3 separate regions of the Homo sapiens genome follow, and regions 2 and 3 are each linked to region 1. The links come from fine-mapping of genetic effects on gene expression. A gene starts in region 1. Each other region holds a variant in brackets. All regions are shown on one strand. Distances are from middle to middle. Region 1 holds the start of YWHAQ (tyrosine 3-monooxygenase/tryptophan 5-monooxygenase activation protein theta). Region 2 has its middle 100 kb from the start of TAF1B. Region 3 holds the start of LOC101929643 (a long non-coding RNA gene).

What was found.
Region 2: its variant is fine-mapped to the expression of YWHAQ in whole blood (TOPMed, PIP 0.93).
Region 3: its variant is fine-mapped to the expression of YWHAQ in whole blood (TOPMed, PIP above 0.99).

The regions. Positions count from the first base shown.
Region 1 is chr2:9,626,408-9,634,587 of GRCh38, reverse strand. YWHAQ (tyrosine 3-monooxygenase/tryptophan 5-monooxygenase activation protein theta) reads left to right here and starts at 3,591. Exons shown (of 6, transcript NM_006826.4): 1 at 3,591-3,647; 2 at 4,054-4,429. The coding sequence starts at 4,136. RefSeq lists silencers at 3,270-3,439, 3,490-3,589, 3,790-4,139 and enhancers at 4,260-4,359, 4,103-5,005.
Region 2 is chr2:9,735,020-9,743,199 of GRCh38, reverse strand. It overlaps the pseudogene RNU4-73P. Among named protein-coding and RNA genes, the nearest start is that of TAF1B, 100 kb to the left of the region's middle. RefSeq lists an enhancer at 4,615-4,714. The variant G/A (reference allele first, on the strand shown) is at 3,994.
Region 3 is chr2:9,557,582-9,565,761 of GRCh38, reverse strand. LOC101929643 (a long non-coding RNA gene) reads right to left here and starts at 680. Exons shown (of 3, transcript XR_922777.3): 1 at 52-680. The variant A/G (reference allele first, on the strand shown) is at 4,729.

The DNA of each region.
Region 1 (8,180 bases):
CATTTAGCACCCACAGGCCAGAGTTGGGGGGCAACTTTCTCTGCCCACTGCACAGAAGCACCAATAATAATTATATGAAGAGTTTGGGTGAAAAGTCCCACTCAGATGTTTGCTTGTCACTAAACTAGCTGCCATATGGCAGGAAAGGAAGAAGTTTCTGGTGATCCACTGGTCTGAGCAAATAAATCACTGAAACGATTTATGAGAGTGAGCTTAACCTGAAGGACTCATTCATTCTGAAATGTACATGGAATGTAGCCATTCTGTAGACCATTAACTGCACTAATTACAACAATGATTCAAGAGATAAGCTTTCACTAAACATTTAATAAAGTTCTAAGGCTCCTTGCAGCAGGATAGCATCCTGCCAGCGCCGTACCCCACCTCCAAGCAGAGGGAAAGAAGGAAAGAAGAAAACACTACTTATGGAACACTTGCTATATGCTCAGCATTTCCCTATGTGACAGCTCATCTAATCTCCAAACAACTCTTTGATGTAGCGATGATGATGATGATTTTTGAGACAGGGTCTCACTCTGTTGCCTAGGCTGGAGTGCAGTGGTGCAATCATGGCTCATGCCAGCCTCGACCTTCTGGCCTCAGGCGATCCTCCCATGTTCAGCCTCCCGGGTAGCTGGGACTACACGCATACGCCATCACACCCAGCTAATTTTTATGTTTTTTGTAGAGACAGGTTTTTGACATGTTGCCTACACTGGTCTGGAACTCTTGGGCTCAAGCAATCCACCCACCCCGACCTCCCAAAGTGTTGGGATTACAGACATGAGCCACTGTGCCCAGCTGGGATTATTTTTATAGATTACAGGTAGAGAGAATTGAGTTTCAGAGAAGATCAAGGTATCCAAGGTCAAATCACATATAAATAGCAGGGCTGAATTTAGGGTCTTCTGGCTCCATGTTAATGTGCTCCTTTTTGTTCCAGGAGCTTCTTCATACCAGGTAACTTAGAAAAAATAATAAGAACTTCATAAATAAAGTAATAATTTCTCAGTACTCCCTTTGCTAGCTGTCTGTTCCTTGCACTTCTTCCCAGTATGTTGGATGTGATGCTTAACAGGTTTCACATTTATTAGGGTGAAGCTCCTAGAAGACAGAGGCTGGTCTGATCCATCCTAGGATCTCTACAGCATCTAGCAGAGATCTGGGGAGACTTGGTGAGGCAGCCTCAGCAGTGGTTAAAAAGATGGGCTTTGGCACCCAAACTGCATGGGGTCCATATCCAAGGTTCTGCCGCTCTCTAGCTGTGTGGCCCTGTACGTCATGCTTGACCACCCTGTGCCTTAATTTCCTTGTCTGTGAAATAGAGATAGTGAGTATAATAACACCTACTTTGTAGTTGCATTAAGCAGATTGGATAAGTTAATTCTTGCAAAAGACTTAAAATAGTGCTTGACATATGCAATCACTCAACACAGGTTAGCTCTTTCTGTGTCCAGGGACTTCAAGTTCCCAGAGCCTTGTTTCTCTCCAACCCGAGTTCTTTCAGGCACAGAAGCCTTTAGCTATGTAGAGGGTCCTCTGAATCTTCCTAAAATGCAATTTTATACTGTGTTATTGGTTGGAAGCAGTTTTTACCCATGATTCCAGATGATTGCAACTAGATGAGTTGGTGTTCAATAAATATTTGATTGAATGAAAGCAGAAATTTCAGAGACTAAGGTACAGAAAGCAGCAAAAACTTGCCCAAGGTCACTGGGGGAGACCACAGCACAGCCTAGACTTTCTGACAAAGAATTTAGTGTGCTTGCTCCTTCTGGTAGTCCCTCTCTACCACAGAGGTTCCATCCCCTGACAATTTCCTCTCCTGGGTCTCTATCCCCCATCCACCTCCACTGGCTTCTCCCCTTGCCCGGGTTGCCTCTAATTTTGGTGAGCTTGAAATTCACTGGTCATACAGAAGGCATTTTATCTGACCTTCCACATGCAAATTCTTTCCATTGGGATTTCTCGGTGTCCAGCTCCACCCCAGCCCACAGGGCCATAAACACTCATGTGTCTGTAGCGGGGCCCCAGGGATTCCAGAAATAACAGCAGGGCCCTCCATTAGAAGGCTGGAACATAGTAAGGCATTTCTGCATTAAGACACAGGCCCTTTCCAATCCAGGCCGCTCCTGTCTGTCAAAGCACAAAGCAACCTTCACAAGTCAGGACAGGGAGGGGCAGTCAAGAGGGAGTCTGAATTTCTGGAAAGTCGGCACCTTCTCCTCCCATCTGTCTGCACTCTCAAATCTCCCATTCTAGAGATTCTCCGGATTTGCTCCAGTCTCCACTCAGAATGGGAAATTCTTTATGATCCATTCTCCTTAGACCTGCTGGAATCGGGATCATAGCAGCGTGAACCCAGAGGGCAATTCTCATCTTAAGATGGCACAGGGACCACGCGCCAGACGGGCAGGGCAGCCACCCTACCTGGATGGAGTTAGGGAACTGGGGAAGTGCAAGGAGAGACAGGAGTGGTTTAAGAGGAAAGGGAGCTGCCAGGGATGACCCTGAATGGGAGGGGCCTGGGGGAATCTTTCTCGCTTCAGCAGGGTGTTCCCCAGGAGGAGAAAATCAGAAATCAACATCCAGGGAGAGGATTTCAGCTTTTCAAGTGACCTCTCACAAATAATACCAGAAACAAAAGCGTGTGCACATGTGACAACGATGTGAAAAATGATGTATTTAGGTGCATAACCTGGAAAGCCTAAAAGATACATAAAAATTGCTTTTTTTTTGCGGGGAGAGATGTTATGGGCAGGGTTTTTTTTTGCGGGGGTGGGAAGGGGTAGTAATAGGTGTTTTCCTGCAAATTGTGCTTAATGTCATTTCTCATTTTAAAGAAAACCACAATACTTGGCATTGTCACAGAAACTCCCCTGGATCTTCTGGGACCTACCTTTTCACAAGGGAATTTTTTGTTTTAGGATGCCCATCTGAAAACTTGAATTTATCATGTAAATGCCATACTGAAGACACCGTCTCCAGAATCAATTCTTCTTTAATGGGGATGCGGTTTGCTTAATTCGGAGCCCTAATGGCAACGTCATTAAGGTCTGGGTTTAGTGTCTTGGGATCCAAACCTTTGTCACGGATAGAAAGGTGGAGGAAAGAAAGGCCCCCGTGCTCTAAAACAGCTGAATATGTCACCCTCCGAAGTCCAGCCTCGGCCAGAGCCCGTGAGATGCAATGCACCATCCGCAGCGGGAGACGCAGCCGCCGCCTAGGAGGTCGTGCGCGCCTCTGGGTCTCGTGCCGCACCCAGAAGTGCCGGGGTGGCGGGGAGGCTGAGGGGAGTTGGTAACGGCATCGCCATGGCAACAGTGACGTCCTTTTACCCTGGATCTAATTGGAGGAAACCCCGTGGCCGAAGCCGCAGCCTGCCGGCCAACCGAACTTCCCCGTACCGACCCACCCTCCTAGCCTCCGCGTTCCCTCCCGCTCCGCCCCCCTCGCCCCCTTCCGCGCGCTCGGTCCTCATTGGCCAGCGGCGCGCTGGGGGCGGGACTCTCGGGAGAAGCTCGGCGCATCATTGGGCGGTGGACCGCCCCTCGGCCCCGGGGTAGGCTGACACGGGAGGGTCCTCAGCTAAAGCCAAAAGCAGATCAAAGTGGTGGGACTCGCGTCGCGGCCGCGGAGACGTGAAGGTGAGCGCCTGGGTCGGCCCGCGGGCTTCCTCCGGCCGCGCTCGGATTGAGGGCCGGGCGGAGGTGCCGCCCTTGAGAGCAGCCGGTTGTCGATGCCGCTCCCCTCAGGGACGGCTCCGGGCGGGAAGGTGCGGGGCCAACGGTCGCTTCCATCTTGGGCCGGCCGGGCGGGGGTGGCGGGAGCGGCCGCGGCTCGGGCTCCCTGCGCGCGGGGCCTCCGCGCCGCCCCCGCCTCCTCCAGCCGCGGGCCGCGGCCTCCCCGGGTGCCCAGCGGGGGAGGGGGCGGGGGAGAGGGAAATTCAAGCGGCCGCGTGTGCGGGAGACAAAAGCGGGCGGCGGGCCGCATTGTCTGACGGCGCTCCCTCTCTGCTTTTTGTTCTCGCCTCGCCGCCCCGCCCCTCCGCAGCTCTCGAGGCTCCTCCCGCTGCGGGTCGGCGCTCGCCCTCGCTCTCCTCGCCCTCCGCCCCGGCCCCGGCCCCGCGCCCGCCATGGAGAAGACTGAGCTGATCCAGAAGGCCAAGCTGGCCGAGCAGGCCGAGCGCTACGACGACATGGCCACCTGCATGAAGGCAGTGACCGAGCAGGGCGCCGAGCTGTCCAACGAGGAGCGCAACCTGCTCTCCGTGGCCTACAAGAACGTGGTCGGGGGCCGCAGGTCCGCCTGGAGGGTCATCTCTAGCATCGAGCAGAAGACCGACACCTCCGACAAGAAGTTGCAGCTGATTAAGGACTATCGGGAGAAAGTGGAGTCCGAGCTGAGATCCATCTGCACCACGGTGCTGGTGAGTCCTCGGCGCGGGGAGCAGGGGAGGCCTTTTGTGAGATGCTTTTCATTGAGAGTTTCGCGGGCACGGAAACAAACGTGAGCCGGGGCTTGCCGGACTGTCTGCTGGGGTGGAGGGTTTTAGGTGAGCCCTGACTTCCCTACTGTGTCCCTCCGGTTGTTGAGACTCAAGAAGCCGCTTTTCCAAGGATAAGTCCTTTTTTTTCGCCCCAGATGCTGGGTAGCTACCAAACGATGGAACTTGGAAACATCCAAGTAGGTCTCTGCGAGACTGAAAGGCGTTTTTAAGTTTCTTGTGCGGGGAGACTGCGTCCTGAGATCTGTGAGCCCTTTAAATGTATTCAGTCGGTTCACAAGCTTCAGGCAGTTGAAAGAAGGCGCAGGCACCTTTTTGTTACAGACAATGTAGTAGGGATTTTTTCCCAAACCCAGTAATGGAAATTTACTTAGAAAATCTGAACAGATACTTTATTTTTCAAGTAAGAGTATCTGTTGTGCTCCCCCCCACCCCCCATAAACAGGAGAGGAGGGGAGTTCGGGAAATGTGAAAAGGACACAGCTGTATCTGAAGAACACAATGTCCTGGTAAATTTCAACATTTAATAACATTTCCTTGCTGTTGCACACCTGTGCTTAAACACTAGTGTTGAAGTGAATTCGTTTCCAGTGTGGAGCAGACAAGGAAAGCTTTCCAGGTTTTGAACTGTCCAGTCTTAGCAAGGACGATTGTTGGGTGGAGTAGGTGGCTGCTGTGATTCACCCTTATTAGTGAGAGAGAACATTTTTAGCTTTGTCATTCCATGGATCTTTTGATCCGTAGGATAAGTTTTTAAAACTGAAATACCAGCATTATATCCAGGAGTGTTTTTAAATGTTTCAGTGCTGCCAAGAGTCATTTCTATGAATAAAATGGGAAATAATCTCATATGGTTTGCCTTTTAAGTGTCACTTTTACAAGAGGCCTACTTATTTTTGATGTGTTTGTGCACATCATATTTTAGGTGGGCTTTGATAGACAAGCATACTAGACTGGGGATTTTTCAAAAGGGAATGGAAGAAATAATTTCTCCCTGGCCTCCTCCCCCACCCCCACCCCCCAAGCCGCCTTTCTTCATCTCATCAGAATGGTGGGGCAGGGAATATGTTCCCCACCCCTTGTTTAAAAAAAAAAAATCCACGAAACTTTTTTAACCTATCTATTTTTCTAATACGATGACAGGCGATCCGGACAAAATCATGGCTGATGGAAATAACTGGTAAAGAGGCAAAGAAAGTAATGCAGACAGTGTGTACTAAAGTGGAGAAAACTTAAGATTATTTACTTTATGAAGTCAAAACTTCGTTGTATTCTTCCGTGTGCTCTTAGCTTCCAGTCCCTGCTTGGCATTGAAGAAGCACTTGTAAAAGCTTTTTGGACTGAATTGCTCGTATTAAAAAATTTTGCCAACTTGAAAGTAGTGGTAGACTTCAACTTGAGTAACATATGGTAATGGCTGTTAACAGCATTATCTGTTACCAAGGGAAGACTCATAAGAATTCCATATGTTAAGGTTTTCTATGTATGTATTTTGGATACTCTTACAGCATATTTCATTTCTGTTCAGTTTATTGCTTTTCAATTAGTTACCTTGAAGCAATTCAGAATCACCGCGTGATTTTTCTTGTTCTCGAGCAAGGTGACTCTGAGCCAAAGGAATATTCGTTTTATTTTGTGGCTCTTATAAATTCTGCTTTTTATGATGGCGTAAGTCGGGGAAGAGTTTTGCTTAGTTGATACGTAGCTTGAGAGAGAGACCAGGTGTTATTAGAATAGAACTTTCATACAGACCATTTCAATGGGGACAACCCCTGAATTTAGGACAGTCTCTTTTATATACTGAGAAGACATAGAATAGTTTAGTTTGATGAATCCGAGACACCAAGGCATAAATGAAATATTCATAAAATGGCTTAAGAGGCTAACTGGGGCTTGGTGGCCAACCTATAAAAAATATCTTGGGAAAGCACTTCTTCAAGTTGGCAACTGTATTGAGAGCTTTCTGTGTGCCAGGCACTGTGCTCTGAGCAATATGGGGAGGAACAAAACAGAACCGTGGATTTTGCCCTCTGATGATTTATAATTTAGAGAGCATGTGAGAGATACACAAACATAAATACCACAATATTCCCATCAGATGGTTAATGAACACAATGCTATGTAGTCTGAAGGAAATAGAAACCTTTGAAAAGGCTTCACAAAGATACCGTTTTTTTGGGGTGAACGTTGAGGGAAGAGGCTGGCGGAGGTGTCAGTATTAAAGGAATATCCGGGGTAGGGCTTGTTCGGGGAACAGTGTGTCGGTGTGGCTGGAGCAGAGTTCATGTGCAGAGTTGCTGCAGGAGACAAGCCTGGAAAGGAAGGCAGCCATCATCATTTATAGAAGATTGGAGTAAGGGGGGTTTCTTCATTTGGTTCATGGGAAACTGGTTTTTTTAAAGTTTTATTTATTTATTGTAGAGATGGGATCTTGTTACACCCAGGCTGGTCTTGAACTTCTGGCCTCAAGCAGTCCTCATGACTTGGCCTCCCAGAGTCCTGGGATTACAGATGTCAGCACCACTGTACATGTAGCAGCATCTAGAATTCGTGGTTTGAGGGCTGACTAACCAGTCTGTGATCTGAACTGACAGATAAGGAAGTTATAAGACAAGTGATAATTGATGAGTTAGTAATTTAATAAGGAGTCTAGGAAAGTAGAGTAACACCTAAAGTTTTTGAACATGCGTGCTAACATAGGGTTTTCTTTTTTTCCTTTGGTGAACAGGAAGAAAGATTTGGTGTGGAGGAGGTGAGACTAACTTGGTAATTATAGAAGACTAGTTAAAGTAACATGAAGGATAGCTAAATTTTTGGTAGAAAAGAGCAGATATTCTCAGCCTCCTCCCTTTCATAGAGTAGGTTGGGGCAGAATTACTTAAACCATGTATTCAAAATAACTGTGTGAACAACTCTCAACCCTTTTGATAATCACGGTATTGAAAGAGGTTACTGAACCGTGGAAGCACAAAAAAATGTTAAAATCCAAGAGTAAAGAACTATAAGTGAACCAAACTCTCTAAGATGAGGGGAGTTAAGATTTCATCCAGTTAGAGCTGTCTCTCAGTGTCATTGTAAAACCGAAGACTTTGGGCTTAACTTTCTAAGTCTCTTCGAGTTCTCATGGTTTGGGGCTGTAGAGTAATGCAGGTCCTAGCCATTCTGCTCTGCTCTGACATCCTTCCACCTCTTAAATGAGTAGTTTTTAAAGTCCAGATTGAAGAATACATGACAGGTTGAAAACTGGTGACTTTAGGGAAATGGCTTCAGAAAGAAGTGAGGCAGAAGTCATTGGTGATCTTACTGAGTGTTGGCAAGAGCAAAATTTAGACACAAAAAAACTGGGCTTTGGCTGGATGTGGTGGCTCATGCCTGTAATCCCAGCACATTGGGAGGCCAAGGCTGGTGGATCACCTGAGGTCAGGAGTTGGAGACTAGCCTGGCCAACATGGTGAAACCCCGTCTCTACTAAAAATACAAAAAAATTAGCCAGGCGTGGTGGCACATGCCTGTAGTTCCAGCTACTCGGGAGGCCGAGGCAGGAGAATCACCTGAATCTGGGAGGCGAAGGTTGCAGTGAGCCGAGATGTGCCACTGCACTCCAGCCTGGGCCACAGAGCGAGACTCTGAAAACAAAAACAAAACCCTGGGCTTAAATATTACAGGTAAGATG
Region 2 (8,180 bases), 110 kb before region 1:
AACCCTGTCTCTACTAAAAATACAAAAATTAGCTGGGCGTGGTGGTGCGCACCTGTAGTCCCAGCTACTCGGGAGGCTGAGACAGGACAATCCCTTGAACCCAGGAGGCGGAGGATGCAGTGAGCCGGGATCTAGCAAATGAACTCCAGTCTGGGTGACAGAACTCCGTCTCAAAAAAACCCAAACAATTTTTGTCAGGAAAAAAAATGTTTTCACTGTTGTTGCTGGCCTTGCTGGTGCCCTAAGCGCATGCTCACTCAGCCTCTTGGAAGCCATCATGGAGGAATGGTGACACTCAAGAAAGTGTGTCCTCTCAGTGAGCAGCCCCAGGCAGGGGCGGTAGAGCAGTTTCCACAGCCCCTCTTCCTGGGACCCCGCTCGTCCCAGCACCACTTGGCCTCATTGAGGACTGCTGTCCTGGCTTTCTCACTGTTCACATGTTGCCAGCAAAGCTGCCAGCTCTCTCAGACCCCACGTGTGGCTGCAGACCCCTGGCCCCAGCTGGACATCTGGAACTTAGGACCAAGACATGTCAGTTCAGTCTTAACTAATAACTTGAATGGAGAAGCTGCATTTTTTTTTTTTTTTTTTTGAGACAGAGTTTCGCTCTTGTCACCCAGGCTGGAGTGCAGTGGTGAGATCTCGGCTCACTGCAACCTCCACTTCCTGGGTTCAAGTGATTCCCCTGCCTCAGCCTCCCGAGTAGCTGGGACTACAGGCGCCTGCCACCATGCCCGGCTAATTTTTTGTATTTTTAGTAGAGACAGCGTTTCACCATGTTGGCCAGGCTGCTCTTGAACTCCTGAAGTCAGGTGATCCACCTGCCTCAGCCTCCCAAAGCGTTGGGATTACGAGAAGCTAAATTTTGGGAGCAGTGGTGACTACATGTCATGCCACATGGACAGAGAAGGAGGAAAATCTCATCTCCAGGAAAAGAAAAATGCAGATTCACAAAGAGAAGCCAGGATGAGACTCAGGTGGAGCCGAACCATGAGTTCCCATTGCTCCTGAAAGCCAGCTCAGTTCTTACCCTCAGATTCTGGGAGACACCCCCAAATCCTTACAAGAATTCCCCTTTGCAGTTTGAAGATGGATTTCTGGAACCTGTAACTAAAATAGTCCCAACAACTGACCCCACCCATAAACCAAGCACAGGTGCAGGCCAGAGGCACAGCTGAGTGCCTCCTCCAAGTGGCATCTCCAGTGACCTTACACTGGTTCCTGAGATGGCCCCAAGTGAAGTACAGCAAAGGAAACCTCAGGACAAGACATGTCCCGATCCATCACTGGAGCCTGAGGTCCTCTTTCTGGTTAAACACGTGAGGCAGGTGCTACTCTTCTCCTTCCTGTATGGATGAGAAGGGCTCAAAGGGTTAAGTAACATGATTGAGGTAACACCAAGGTGAGTACATTTGCCTTAGTCCATTTGCATTGCCATAAAGGATATACCTGAGCCTGGGTAACTTATAAAGAAAAGAGGTTTCTTTGGCTCATGGTTCTGCAGACTGTACAACAAGCATGGTGCCAGCATCTGCCTCTGGTGAGGGCTTCAGGCTGCTTCCACTCATGGCAGAAGGCAAAGGGAAGCCGGTATGTGTAAGAATCACATGGGGAGAGGGAAAGCCAGAGAGAGGAGGAGGAGGTTCCAGGCTCTTTAAACAACCAGCCTTTGAGGGAACTAATAGACCAAGAACCTACTCATTATAACAAGGACAAGGACAGTACCAAGACCTTCATGAGGGATTTGTCCCCATGACCCAAACACCTCCCATAGGCCCCCACCTCCAGTATCGGGGATCAAATTTCAACATGAGGTTTCGGGAGACAAATATCCAAACCACAGTAGCATTACAGCCAGAATTCCAAGTGTGGCTGACTCCAGCCGGTGTATCTGTTGTTGTTCACACGTTACACCCATGAGTCGTCATCCATGCCACCTACTACCAGTGGACAATGACCTCGTGGTGCATGTACCCTCAGTGATCCATCTGGCCACTGCAGAGACAGGTGAGCTTGAAAAGGGGCCACCATGGCCACAAATCAGAAAATGCAGGATCACAAATGGAATTGTGGGATACAATTCTTTGGCATAGAAAGGGCCAGGCAAAATTATGACACAGTGCATTAATAATTAATTAGTGCTTAATCAGGAGCTCTACATAGCAGTTCATTACCCAAGGACACTCCCCATTATAACTGTAGCAAATGGGTCTGGGCAGGCAGCCCTGCCAGCCTCTTTTGAGGCTCACCAGTGACTTTGAGGCTCCCCTTCCAGGGCTGAGGTCACTAACCTCCCCTAGACCTGGCGACCAGTAGCTGGTGTAAGAGGTCCCCAAGAACAGGGGTGATCTGACTCACCCTGGAGAAATTTAAGACACGCTGGGAAGGCAGAGCCCTTGCTTAAAAATAACTCCTCAGATTTCTGCAGTGGCGGTACCATAGCCAATGAGGTTTGCCTGAGACATGATTATTGCTAATTGAAAACTTTTCCCTATAGCTTGTCATGACAACTTGAAATATAATTGGCATCGAGAATTTTTGAGACTCTCTACAGAGGCTGAACAACCAAAAAAACATAAAAATTTAACTCCTCCTCAGCTTCACTTTGGCACAATGCCAGAAGGACCTCTATTAAGTTGTGCACATTTGTGCAGCCCCCCACCCCCCAACTTCAAATACAAATGCCCATCAGGGAGCTAAAACCTTCTGCATTCGTTGGTTGGAGGAGTCCCCACTAGGGTATGAGTGTTGAGGGTGTAGGGGCAGGAACCACATGTGAGTCGTTGTTGTATTTGCCACACTATGTGACAGGTGGGTGGATGGATAGATGGGTGGATGGGTGGGTGGGTGGGTGGGTGGGTGGGTGGATGGGTGAATAGATGGGTGGATGGGTGGGTGGATGGGTGGATGGATGGGTGGATGGATGGGTGGATGGGTGGGTGAATGGATGGGTGGGTGGGTGGGTAGATGGATGGATGGATGGGTGGGTGGATGGATGGGTGGGTGGGTGGGTGGATGGATGAGTGGATGGATGGTAGGATGGATGGATGGGTGGGTGGATGGATGGGTGGGTGGATGGGTAGATGGATGGATGGATGGATGGATGGGTGGGTGGGTGGGTGGATGGATGAGTGGATGAATGGATGGATGGGTGGGTGGGTTGATGGAGAGACAGGAGTGAAAAATACACAACAGAGGGAGAGGAAAATCACAGTCTATCCTTGCTTGTTTCCAGCAAAGAAGAACGTAGCTCCTGACTGGCTGCCACATATGTGTCTGAGCAGCGAGTTCCAGGGACCTTCTCAGTGATGCCGATGGCCTCTCCAGGCAAATAGCGCAGGCCTGGCCGGTATCCAGAAGGAACTCCAGGCTGCCTCTCCTTCCCGGACGCACACCCTCCCCTGGGGAAAGACCCCAGACAGAGCCCGCGGGGCCTACAAATAGCAGAGTCCCTGGCTCTGAGCACAGGCAACGGAGAGGGGACGGGAAACGGGACTCGGGCGCCAAGTCACTCCCCTGCCTCGCCCTGGCGGAAGGGCAGGCGTCACACCTCTAGGAGGAAGGCAGATGTGAGAGGGCTGAGCCCTTCCGGGGGCTCAGAGGATCAAAGGCACTGACATCCTAAGAGAATTGGAAACCAGAAACAGGGCCGGGCGCGGTAGCGCACGCCTGTAATCCCAGCACTTTGGGAGGCCGAGGCGGGCGGATCACGACAGAGCGAGACTCCGTATCAAAAAAAAAAAAAAGAAAAAACAAAATAGAAACCGGAAACAGGATGAGCTGGGTCTGCAGAAGCGGCGTGTGGGACCCATTCCCCGCAAGGGCTTTGTGGATAGGAACCCAGCACAGACTTCCCTCTTATCAACAGGACCGAGGCATGAGAACACGAGGGTCAGCCTGGGCTCCCTGACCGCAGTCTCCTCAGAAGGGAGTCTGGACAGCGAGTCTTGCCTCTGCTGCTCCTCTGGGGCCTCCTGATGCCTGGCAGGGAGA[G/A]GAGCCACCGTGTGAGGGTTTCTGAAATTAAACTGTTCTCAGAGTCGCAGCTGTCAGGAAGGGACAGCAAGAGCCAGCTGACAGGAGCCTGAATCTTTCCAACGCAATCCATCTAGGATGGGAAAAGAAAGACCAATTTCCAGCCTTGCCAGACTCCTAGGGATGGGCTGAGCATGCAGACTCTGTCACTCACCAGCCGCTGACCTTGGCCAAGCACCTCATTGTCTCTGAGTCTTGGTTTCCTTATTCATAAAACGATAAAAGTCCTGATCTCACAAGGCTGATGTGGGAGCCAGAAATAGCGATGCTGTGTGACAGGCCCGCAACCCTTCCAGTTCCTCTCCCTCACCAGCAAGCCAGAGGCCTGTTTTATTCAGGGTTTCTGGCAGCCACATGCTTCAGGAGAAGCAGGACTCCCTGGGAGCCTAGCACAGTGTCTTGATTGGTCTAAGCCAGTCACGGTGACCCAGTGATTAGTTTATGAACGGGCGTGTAACTTCATTCTGACTAACAAGACACGAGAGGAAGTGTCTGGATGAATTTGGGGAAAGTTTCCCTTACTCTTAAAAAAAGAGCTATAAAGAAGGGGCTTTCTCTCTTTCTGACCTTTGGGTGTGGTTGGGTGAGAACATGATACTTAGAACTGCTGCAGCCATATTGTGACATAAAGGGATAATACCCAACATAAAAGCCAAGAGGCTAACGATGGCAGAGTGTCGAGATGAAAAGAAGCCAAGTCCTTGGTGACAGCCTTGAGCGGTTGAATTAATTTCCCTTGGGATGTCCCCAACTTGAGACATCTCATTAAGTGAGAGAATGCTGTCCCAAGGTCAGAGACACGGGACAGTGGGGGTCAGGGGCAAAGGCTCTAGAGCTTGACTGCCCAATCCACCACCACTACTACTGAGGACTTTTGGCTTGTTTATTTTCTCTCTCTTCTCAGTTTCCTCATCTGTGAAATGGGGATGGTGATAATAACCGTATCTGGTTTATGAGATCATTGTGAGGATTTAAGGGGTTAATGTGTAGAAAGTATTCAAATCGCGTCTGGCACATGGTAAGTGTCATGTAAGTGTCAGCTATGACTATTGCAAGCCATTTTGACTTTTTCTGTTATTTATATCTCAAAGTATCCTCTTAAAGTCCTCATGGAATAGGTGCTTGGTCAGTAGTAGCTGTGTGTTCACAAGTTTCTGGGCTGAACAACTGTGTGCGCCACTGTATGTGCACAGAGATAGTACTAATGCAAATGTCCCAAGGAGCTTCTCGAGTGGACATCACTGGACTCCTGCACCCCATCCCCAAGGGGAGCTTCTGCAGGAGGGGAATAAGCAGAAAGCAGGAGAAGGCATTCCAAAGTGCCTGGTGGGGACTGGGGGAGTGGAAGTGGGGGGCACTAGGAGGAGTGGGGAGTACCAGAGGAAGTGGGGGGCACTAGGGGGAGTGGGAGGTACTAGGGGGAGTCAGGGGTACTAGAGGGAATGGGGGTACTAGGAGGAGTGGGGGGCACTGGGGGAGTGGGAGGTACTGGGGGAGTAGGGGGCACTAGAAGGAGTGGGGGTTACTAGGACGAGTGGGGGTACTAGAGGGAGTAGGGGGTACTAGGGGGAGTGGGGGATAGTGGGGGAGCCAGGGGTACTAGAGGAAGTGAGGGGTTACTGGGGGAGTGAGGAGTACTAGAGGGAGTAGGGCACTAGGGGGAGTAGGGGGTACTAGAGGAAGTGGGGGGTACTAGGGTGAGTAGGGCACTAGGGGGAGTTGTGGGACATTTGGACAGAGGCCAAATGCACAAAACCTATTCCAGAAAGAGCCAATACACTGGCTCAGCTGAAGAAGAGCCTGGGGATGGAAGAGCAAGGAGAGACAGTCCCGGAAGTGCAGGCAAGGCTGAGAACGGGCCGGCCTCGAATGATGAAGCGTTAGGATTCCGTCTTACAGGGCAGCAACACCAAAGGTTTCTGAGCAGGGCAGCCTCGGCAGTGTGGCTCAGGGGAAGAGCTGCTCACCATCTGCATTCATCTGCTCAGGCTGCCATAATACAACACCACAGGCTGGGAGCTTAGGCAACAGAAATCTATTTCCAAACCAGTCCTATTGGATTAGGTAACTGAGGTCACACTTATAACCGCCATTAACATTAGTTACCTCCATAAAGGCCCTATCTCCAAATACAGTCAGTCCTGGGTAGGATCTTCAATGCGTGCATTTGGGAGACAATTTGGTCCACAGCACCATCACTCTTTGGGATGAGCTCTAGAGGTGGATGTGGGAAACAGACACCGAATAGGAAGCTGCTGTCTTAGCCCAGGTGCAGAAAGAAGGAGGGGGCTTCTGAAGGCAGAAGGCAGCAGTAGACACAGAAAGGAAGGTGAGCATAAGAGCTGCTGAGAGGGAGGAATCTCCTCACACAGTTCAACACAGTAACTGCTATGTGACCCAGCAATTCCACTCCCAAGTATCTACCCAAAAGAATGAAAATTAGGGACCCACACAGGTACTTGTACACTCACGTTCATAGCAGCATTATTGACCATAGCAAAACAACCCAAATGTCCTTCAACAGATGAATGGATACACGAAACGTGGCATATTCACATAATGGAATATCATTCAGCCATAAAAAGGCATGGAATTCTGACACATGCTAGAATGTACATAAACCTTGAAAAGGTAGGGACAGAAAGGGGTGATCCCCTTTCTCCCCATCATAAAGGGTCACAGCCAACACCCCTACAACAAAAAGCATGTTAACAAGAGAAAATCATAACAAAGGTATTATGTGCACAGATGTGCAAGAGTGTTTACAAAACATGAACTCGAAGAGGGACCAGATGGTTGAGGCTTAATGCCCTCTTCATAACAGAGAGGGGAGTGGGGAAATGACTAGGCCCAATGCTCAGACAATGGTTAGTAATTGATTCTCTTTCAGAGCTAGATGGGACAAGTTACAGGAAGGTGAGAGGCAGAGCTGCACAGGAACAAATGTCTTACTGTGCAGATAAAGATCTCCAGGTGATCTCTGGGGTGAGCTTCCTTCCTTGAAGACAAGGACTCAATGTTTTCATTTCTACATCCTCAGAGTTGGTGCAGGTCCTGGCATGGGTGGACCTCTGCAGTTGCTTAATGGATCCATATAATCCAACTAAATTCATACAAGGGCAGGCCCAGCAGGTGTTCCAACAGAGTCAGTAGGGGACGTGCTAGATGAGCATAAGGAAGTTAAAGAAAGTTTCTCCAGAAAAGATAATAGTGACATTGTAGTTTCTTGGAAGAGGTGCCATTTGCCCCAGGCCTTGAAATATGACAGTCATGTGGGATAAAATTATGATACAACATCCCCTATTTAGGGGTCAGGCTTCTTCCCCTAAACTACTTCTGCAGTTTTGCCCCTCAAGCTTGATGATAGGTATTTCTGAAGTTGCAGAGAACTGTTCAGTATTAGAGCAAATCCATCCCACACTTCTTCCCAGAGCACCCAGAAAACAAAGACCGCCTTGGTGGAGGGGAGGTCTAGGAAGAGGGAATGGACAGGGACATGGGTCCCCTAAACAAGGCAGAGTGAGCTTCTGGAAACATGAACCTGCTCACATCACCCCTCTCTTCTCTCCCCCTTGCCTGTGCCTGAGTCATAAACCCTTGGCCTAACATTTGAGGTTCTTTACCATCTGGCTTGTTTTGGCCTCTCCATTCCAGCACCACCCTGCCCCAAACCACAAAGCCCCATCAGACCACTTCCCCACTTTGGCAAACATGCTAAGCTCTTCTGTGTCTCTGCACTTCATCGTGTTATTCCCTTAGCTTACAATGCTTTTCCCCACCTCCTTTACACCTGAAAACCCTACTTGTTCTTCAAGTTCCTCCTCTGTAGTCCTATTTTGATGCCAAGTCCATTCCTGTTTCGTCTGGGCTTCCCCAGGCTTTCTTTACCTCTCTCTAACTCCATTATGACACCTGACATCTATCATTTGATCTGCCATATGAGGCTTAGTTGGTTCCCTGTCTCTGTCCTCACTAGATCCTGAGAACCTTCAGGGAAGGATAATGTTTTCTTCATCTTTTAGTCCCCAGCACAGTACCTGGTACATAGTGGGTGCTCAGTGAAACTGCCAACACATTGAATGGAGCTCCCCCAGACACACAATATGGGAGACAAGCCCTTTGAGAATGCTGCTGGGGGTGTGATTGTA
Region 3 (8,180 bases), 69 kb after region 1:
CATCTCTCTGGAAAATTACTGAGCAGTTTCAAAGATATAAAAGCCACTTACCCCAAGATCCTGACACTTTCCGTTTAGGGCCTTGATTACCCAGGGCTTTGCTGCTTTTCTTTCAGTCTCTCGCCGTGTGATCTCTTGGTCATCTTATGACTCACAAGAGGCTCCCTGCCAATGGGCAGGACCAGGGAGAGGAGAGAAGGAAAGCAGGCCAGGCACACAGCTACTTATTAGTAGCCTTGGCAAAGTGAGTGAGGAGGTTAAATTGCTGGGCTAGGTTGAAAATTGGGAATTACTTGTGGATTTTATTGTTTTCCCTCTAGCAAGGATAAACTGAAATTTGCCAAAAAGCAAAGAACAAATCATTCAAAACTGTTAACGAGTTACTATATTTTCCTGGGACAGATTCATAAAATAAGGTTCTTTAAATGGAGTCAGTCCAATACCAAGCTTTCTCTTGACAGTATGTCTGGCCCAGGACAAGGAGGACTTTACCCCAGGCTAAGAACAGAAGCAAAGAACATGGGGAGAGAGGAGCAGCATACATTTGGGTCCAAACCTACTGTGACTTGGTCTCAAGTCTTCATGGAGAAAACTGGATCAGGTGAAGAAGAAGAATTAAATCAGGCCAGGCACAGTGGCTCATGCCTGTGATCCCAGCACTTTAGGAGGCCAAGGCGGGAGGATTGCTTGAGCCCAGGAGTTTGAGAACAACCTGGGCAACAAGGCAAGACCCTATCTCTATAAAAAAATTAAAAAATTGGCTGGGTGCAGTGGCTCACGCCTGTAATCCCAGCACTTTGGGAGGCTGAGGTGGGTGGATCACCTGAGGTCGGGAGTTTGAGACCAACTTGGCCAACATGGTGAAACCCCATCTCTACTAAAAAAAAATATATATATATATACACACACAAAAATTAGCTGGATGTGGTGGTGCGCCTGTAATCCCAGCTACTCAGGAGGCTGAGGCAGGAGAATGGGGTGAACCTGGGAGGCAGAGGCTGCAGTGAGCTGAGATCACGCCACTGCACTCCAGCCTGGGCAACAGGGCGAGACTCCATCTCAAAAAAAAAAAAATTAGCTGGGCCTGGTAGCACGTGCCTGTGGTTACAGCTACTCAGGAGGCTGAGGTGGGAGGATCACTGAGCTCGGGAGGTCGAGGCTGCAGTGAGCCATGTTCACACCACTGCACTCCAGCCTGGGTGACAGAGCTAGACCCTGTCTCAAAAACAAAAAAGAATAATGATTAAATCACAAGAGATTTACTATCAGAACTCAGAAGTAGCCAGGAATAGAAAAAGATGTAATTTTACAGTCTCCCTGCTCTCTGCTGGTTACCTGACTCCATCACCCTATGTAAGAATGGCTTTGAAGGACCAAATATTTGCATAATTGACAGCTTGATTTTGGACTCTGGCCTCCAGAACTGTGACAAAATAAATGGGATCTTTAAAAGACTAAGACTACTAAAAAATGGTGCAGACCTGCAATCTACAAATCAGAATGTTCAGATGCCAGTGAGTAGAACGTTCAGATGCCAGTGAAGGATGCTTAGGTTTTTCATAGCTGGATACATAGAGCAAGGATATTCCAGGCAAGAGGAATTTCAGGAGAAAAGGCAGAAGGGCAGAAGGGGAGGTAACCTTAGGCTGTGTTCCATAAGCATTGTAATATTTTCTTAGCGCTGCTGTGATAAGTTGTCACAAACTGGATAGCTTAAAATAAGATAAATGGCCAGGTGCGGTGGCTCCACCTGTAATCCTAGCACTTTGGGAGGCCGCAGTGGGGTAGATTGCTTAAGCTCAGGAGCTTGAGACTAGCCTGGGCAACATGGGAAACCTTGTCTCTACCAAAACTAAAAAAACTACCCAGGCGTGGTGGCTGGCATGTGCCTGTAGTCCCTGCTACTCAGGAGGCTGAGGTGGGGGTATTGCTGGAGCCCAGGAAATCGAGGCTGCAGTGAGCCGAGATGGCGCCACTGCACTCCAGCCTGGGTGACAGAGCGAGAGAACCTGTCTCAAAAAAACAAAACAAACAAACCAAAAAATAAAAAATAAAAATAAATAAAATAAAAACCAAGAGAAATTTATTCTCTCCGTTCTAGAGGCCAGAAGTCCAAAATCAGGGTGTCTGCAGGGCCATGCTCCCTCTGAAGGCCCAGGGGAAGAGTCTTTTCCTTGCCTCTTCCTGGCTTCTGGTGTCGTGGCGCTCTTTGGTGTTCAGTTTGTAGGTGTATAACTCTAATCTCTGCATCCATCATCTCACGGTGCTCTCTCTGTGTGTCTCTGTGTCACTTCTCTTCTTACAGGGACATCAGTCATTGGATTTAGGGCCCAGCCTAATCCAGTATGACCTCATCTTAACTTGATTACATCTGCAAAGACCCTGTTTCCAAATAAGATCACATTCATAATACCAGGGGTTAGGACTTGAACTTATTTTCTTGGGCAGGGGAGACACAATTCTGCCGCTATAAGCATTAAATTGTCTAATTTATTTAGATGAGGGAAATTGTGAGGTATCTGGCTGTATGTCAGATAATGATATTTGTTTCATAAATAACTGTTAACTGCCTTAGGCAGAACACTTATTTGATATGGAAGGTAGTAGGGTCCTCACCTTTACGAACTTGTGCTTTGGTAGAAAATACCAAAATACCATCAAGAAGCAACAATGCAAGATAAAATGAAGGACGGGCTATAAAAGAACCAAGAAAAAGCCCATGGATAGGAGACATTTAGCTGGTGTTATGGAAGACAGGTAGAGGTACTGGTGGAGAGGAAGCAGAGGTAAGAAAGTCACTTCAGGTATTATGGGAATGATAGGGACTAGTTCAAAGGAGAGAGAGTGAGGGATTGAGCTGGACAGTTTCCTTTAACACCACTAAGTATATTAACTATTGCTTCTGCAGAGTTTTTGTTTTTTTTTTTTTAAGTGTAGTAGCAGTGTCTCAGCTCACTGCGACCTCTGCCTTCCAGGTTCAAGTGATTCTCCTGCCTCAGCCTCCCAAGTAGCTTGGATTACAGGCACATGCTGCCACGCCTGGCTGATTTTTGTATTTTTAGTAGAGACGGGGTTTCACCATGTTGCCCAGGATGGTCTTGAACTCCTGACCTCAGGTGATCCACCTGCCTCAGCCTCCCAAAGTGCTAGGATTACAGGCGTGAGCCACCGTGCCCAGCCGAGAATGAAATATTTAAAATAGCTTTATTTGACCTAAAGAGTATAACAGTAATGTGACTAAATGCAATGTAGTATCCTGGGTTAGATCCTAGAACAGAAAAAGGACATTAGTGACAAAATTGCAGTCCAATTAGTGGCTTCCAGGGACTGGGAGGAGGGGGAAAGGTGGTTTAATGGGTATGGGGTTTCCTTTTGGGGTGATTAAAATGTTCTGGAATCAGATGGTGGTGATGATTGCACAGCACTGTAAATGTATTGAATGTTGATGGTAAATTTTGTGTTATGTGTATTTTATCATAATTTTAAATTTAATTTAATTATCTATTTTGAGACAGGGTTTCACTCTGTTGCCCAGGCTGGAGTGCAGTGGCACAAACATGGCTCACTGCAGCCTTGACTTCCTGGGCTCAAGTGATCTTCCTGCCTCAGCCTCAGCCTCTTGAGTAGCTGGGACCACAGGCATGTGCCACCATGCCTGGCTAATTTTTTTTATTTGTTGCCCAGGCTGATCTTGAACTCCTGGGCTCAAGCAATCCCTCCTTAGCCTGCCAATGTGCTGGGATTATAGGAGTAAGCCACTGTGCCTGGCCCCAAAATTTCTTAAAGACCGTAAGGCACATTAAAAAATAAAAAAATCCGGCCAGTGTGGTGGCTCACACCTGTAATCCCAACACTTGGGAGGCAGAGGCAGGCAGATCATCTGAAGTCAGGAGTTTGAGACCAGTCTAGCCAATATGGTGAAACCCCATCTCTACTGAAAATACAAAAATTAGCCGGCCATGGTGGCACAAGCCTGCAGTCCCAGCTATTTGGGAGGCTGAGGCAGGAGAATCACTTGAACCCGGGAGAAGGAGGTTGCAGTGAGCCAAGATCGCACCACTGCACTACAGCCTGGGTGACAGAGCAAGACTCCGTCTCAAAAAAAAAAAAAAAATCCAAATGTCTGCAGTTTAGTTACTAGTATTGTACCAGTATTATTTTTTTAGTTTAACAAACATACCATGATCATCATGGTCAACATTTAGGAAGCTGGGTGAAACAGGAACTCCATACTATCTTTGCAACTTTTCGGTAAATCTGAAATTTTTCTAAAATGAAAATTTATTTTAAAAAGTTAATGTGGGCCAGGCGTGATAGCTCACACCTATAATCCCTGCACTTTGGGAGGCTGAGGTGGGCAGATCATCTGAGGCCAGGAATTCAAGACCAGCCTGGGCAACATGGTGGAACCCCATCTCCACTGTTATACAAATATAAAAATTAGTTGGGCATGGTGGTGCACGCCTGTAGTCCCAGCTACTCGGGAGGCTGAGGCACAAGCAATCGCTTGAACCCAGAAGACAGGGGTTGTAGTCAGCCGAGATTGTGCTACTGCATTCCACCCTGGGTGGCAGACCGAGACCCCATCTCAAAAAAAACACAAACCCAAAAAGTTAACGTGAAAAAAATCCATGATCCTTATTTTTCCTGATGCATTTGGGTGTTTGTGTGTTTATATATATCTATCTTTTAGAGTATAATTTCTTTGAGGCCAAAGGTATAATGTGT[A/G]TCTCTTTGGTATAATTCTTAAAATATTAGTAAAATTTTCAGAATTTAAACATTGAACAATCAAGTTCGGTTTTTCTGAAGAGCCCTAAGTAGAACAGCTTTTCAATTAAGGTCTCTGGCTGCTGTGGAACTGGAGGGTAATTGGTGAGAGTCTCCTCTCTGGGGCCTGTCAACCCAAGAGTAATGACTTCTGGCCACTTCAGACCTGAGGTAATTTCAAACCAGCACAAGTTTCCATTTGTTCTCTTTATCTAGTCTGCTCTCTAAGTTCAGTTATTCATGTGGTTCAATTACCCCGAGATCTCAAGGGAGAGAGGCAGGGATTTAAGAAGGAAAAGAACAGACACAGCTCCATATTTTATGTGGCATACAATATGTAGGATGTATGATACTTCTGCACACAATGGTGGTTCATATCAGTGGGATGTGGTGGCTCACACCTGTAATCCTAGCACCTTAGGAGGCCGAGGTGGGTGGATCGCTTGAGCCCAGGAATTCGAGACCAACCTGGGCAACATGGTGAAACCCTGTCTCTAAAAAAAAAAAAGAAAGAAAGGAGACTTTATAACAATTAAAAAAAATTCCCCCCAAAATCATCTGTTCATCAGTGAGGATCTGCAGATGTCTCTGCTTTGTCCCATGCATATTTGTCATTTTTCTAAAAGGTTGATTTTGCCCGGGCACGGTGGCTTATGCCTGTAATCCCAGCACTTTGGGAGGCCGAGGTGGGCGGATCATGAGGTCAAGAGATTGAAACCATCCTGGACAATATGGTGAAACCCCGTCTCTACTAAAAATACAAAAATTAGCTGGGCGTGGTGGCGCATGCCTGTAGTCCCAGCTACTCGGGAGGCTGAGGCAGGAGAATCACTTGAACCCGGGAGGCGGAGGTTGCAGTGAGCTGAGATCGCGCCACTGCACTCCAGCCTGGCGACAGAGCAAGACTCCGTCTCAAAAAAAAAAAAAAAAAAAAGGTTGATTTTTTCTAAAATGGGTTAAAATTTCTTAACCAAAACCTTAGAAATTAGAGTTCTTGGCACATGACTTTGTATAAAGTCCTATTTTTCATTAAGTGGCATCTGTTGTCTTATTTGTGGGTTGACTCATACTTAAAGCGACTGCTTTCCACAGATTTGTTCATCAGCAAAAAAGCATACAAATGCAGGAATAATTACCATTTTAGAAACAGTGAGGATGGCTCTATCCATCTATAAAAACTGGTGGGGTTGGTGTAAGACAAAATTGGCTAATAAGAGAAATAGAGCTAGAGAAATAGATAGAAGGAAACAAAACACCCAGCCAGAACCAGTTAGTTCTCTGGTCATTTAGACAAGGTTTTACTGGTACTTGTGTGGGTTTGGTAGTTAACTGCAGAACCATATGTGGCTCATGTGTTTAATAACTGCAAATGTTTACTCTTAAATTCACTTGCGGTATCTAAATTATGAATAATTAATTCCACAGCATGGGATTGGGGAACCTCAGGAAATATTTTTAATTATCTTTATTAAATCCTAAATTAAAAGCATCACTTCAGGTGTTAAGAACCCAGGATCCCATCAACTTGTTTACGTATTTTTTTGAACAGATGATAGTGGCTGTGTAACAAATTACCCCTAATTTAGGAGCTTTAGAACCACGAACACTTATCTCCCAGCTTCTGAGGCTGAGGAATCTGGGAGTAGCTTAGTTATAGTCAGATGGTAGGTCAGGGGCTGCAGTGATCTTAAAGCTTGCCTGGGGCTGAATTCCTTCCAAGCTCACTCACATAGTCTTTGGCAGCTCCTTGGTGTTTGTTGGCTGCTGACCTGTTCTATTGGACCTCTCCATAGTTTTCCTGAGTGTTCTCATGACATGAAAGCTGGCTTCCCCCAGAGTGTGTGATTCAAGAGGAAACAAGCAAGCAAGAGAGCACCTGAGATGGAGGACAGAGTTTCTTGTGTCCTAACCTCAGAAGTGACATCACTTCGGCTGCATGCTAGTGGTCACAGACCAACTATGGCCCAGTGTAGAAGAGGAAGCAGGCATCATTGGGGGCCATCTTGGAGGCTGGGCTACCACTGTGGCTGTCAAATCTTTGAGGTATTTATACTCTATTGGAAAACTTTAAAATAATGACCTAACAGCTTTAATTTTAAATGTCAGTATTTATGCTGAAAGTTTCATAATTTGCTACTACTACGCTAATGATGAAAAACTTTAAAGATACACCTAGGGGGTATATAGTTGTTTTTTTTTTTGAGATGGAGTCTCCCTCTGTCGCCCAGGCTGGAGTGCAGTGGCGCTATCTCGGCTCATTGCAACCCCCACCTCCAGGGTTCAAGTGATTCTCCTGCCTCAGCCTCCCAAGTAGCTTGGACTACAGGCACGTGCCACTGCGCTGGCTAATTTTTTGTATTTTTAGTAGAGACGGGGTTTCACCGTGTTAGCCAGGATGGTCTTGATCTCCTGACCTCGTGATCCGCCTGCCTCGGCCTCCCAAAGTGCTGGGATTACAGGTGTGAGCCACCACGTCTGGCCAGGGGGTATATAGTTTTAAAAAATTATTTTGGTGCTGAGTGCAGTGGCTCATACCTGTAATCCCAGCACTCTGGGAGGCCAGGAGTTTGAGATCAGCCTGAGGAACATAGCGAGACTCCACTTCTATAAAAAAAATGTAAAGATTAGCCAGGTGTGGTGGTGCATGCCTGTGGTCCCAGCTACTGAGGAGGGTGAGGCTGGAGGATTGCTTGAGCCCAGGAGGTCGAGACTGCAGTGAGCTGTGATTGTGTCACGGTACTCCATCCTTGGCTGCAGAGCCAGACCGTCTCAAAAGATAAAAGAGCCGGGCGCGGTGGCTCATGCCTGTAATCCCAGCACTTTGGAGGCCAAGGCGGGCAGATCACGAGGTCAGGAGATCCAGACCAGTCTGGCCAACATGGTGAAACCCTGTCTCTACTGAAAATACAAAAATTAGCTGGGCATGGTGGCGCACAACTGTAGTCCCACCTACTTGGGAGGCTGAGGCAGGAGAATCCCTTGAACCTGGGAGGCAGAAGCTGCAGTGAGCCAAGATCATGCCACTGCACTCCAGCCTGGCAACAGAGCAAGACTCCGTCTCAAAAAAAAAAAAAAAAAAAAAAAAAGATAAACTAATTAATCTATCCAGTGCCCCTCTTACCATATTCCTTTGGCTCTTTATCTCCCCCACGTGGTGCTCTTTTATCTTAAAAGTATGCACAATTGATAAATGAAAGATGAACTGCAAATTGGAATAATTTGGGTCCTGATTTGTGAATTGAAAAGATTACTTGAAATTTGGAATGTCCCTGGAAATCTAGGACTTCTGGTTATTCAGGCCAGGCGCGGTGGCTCACGCTTATAATCCTGGCACTTTGGGAGGCCGAGGCGGGTGGATCACCTAAGGTCAGGAGTTTGAGACCAGCCTGGCCAACGTGGTGAAATGCCATCTC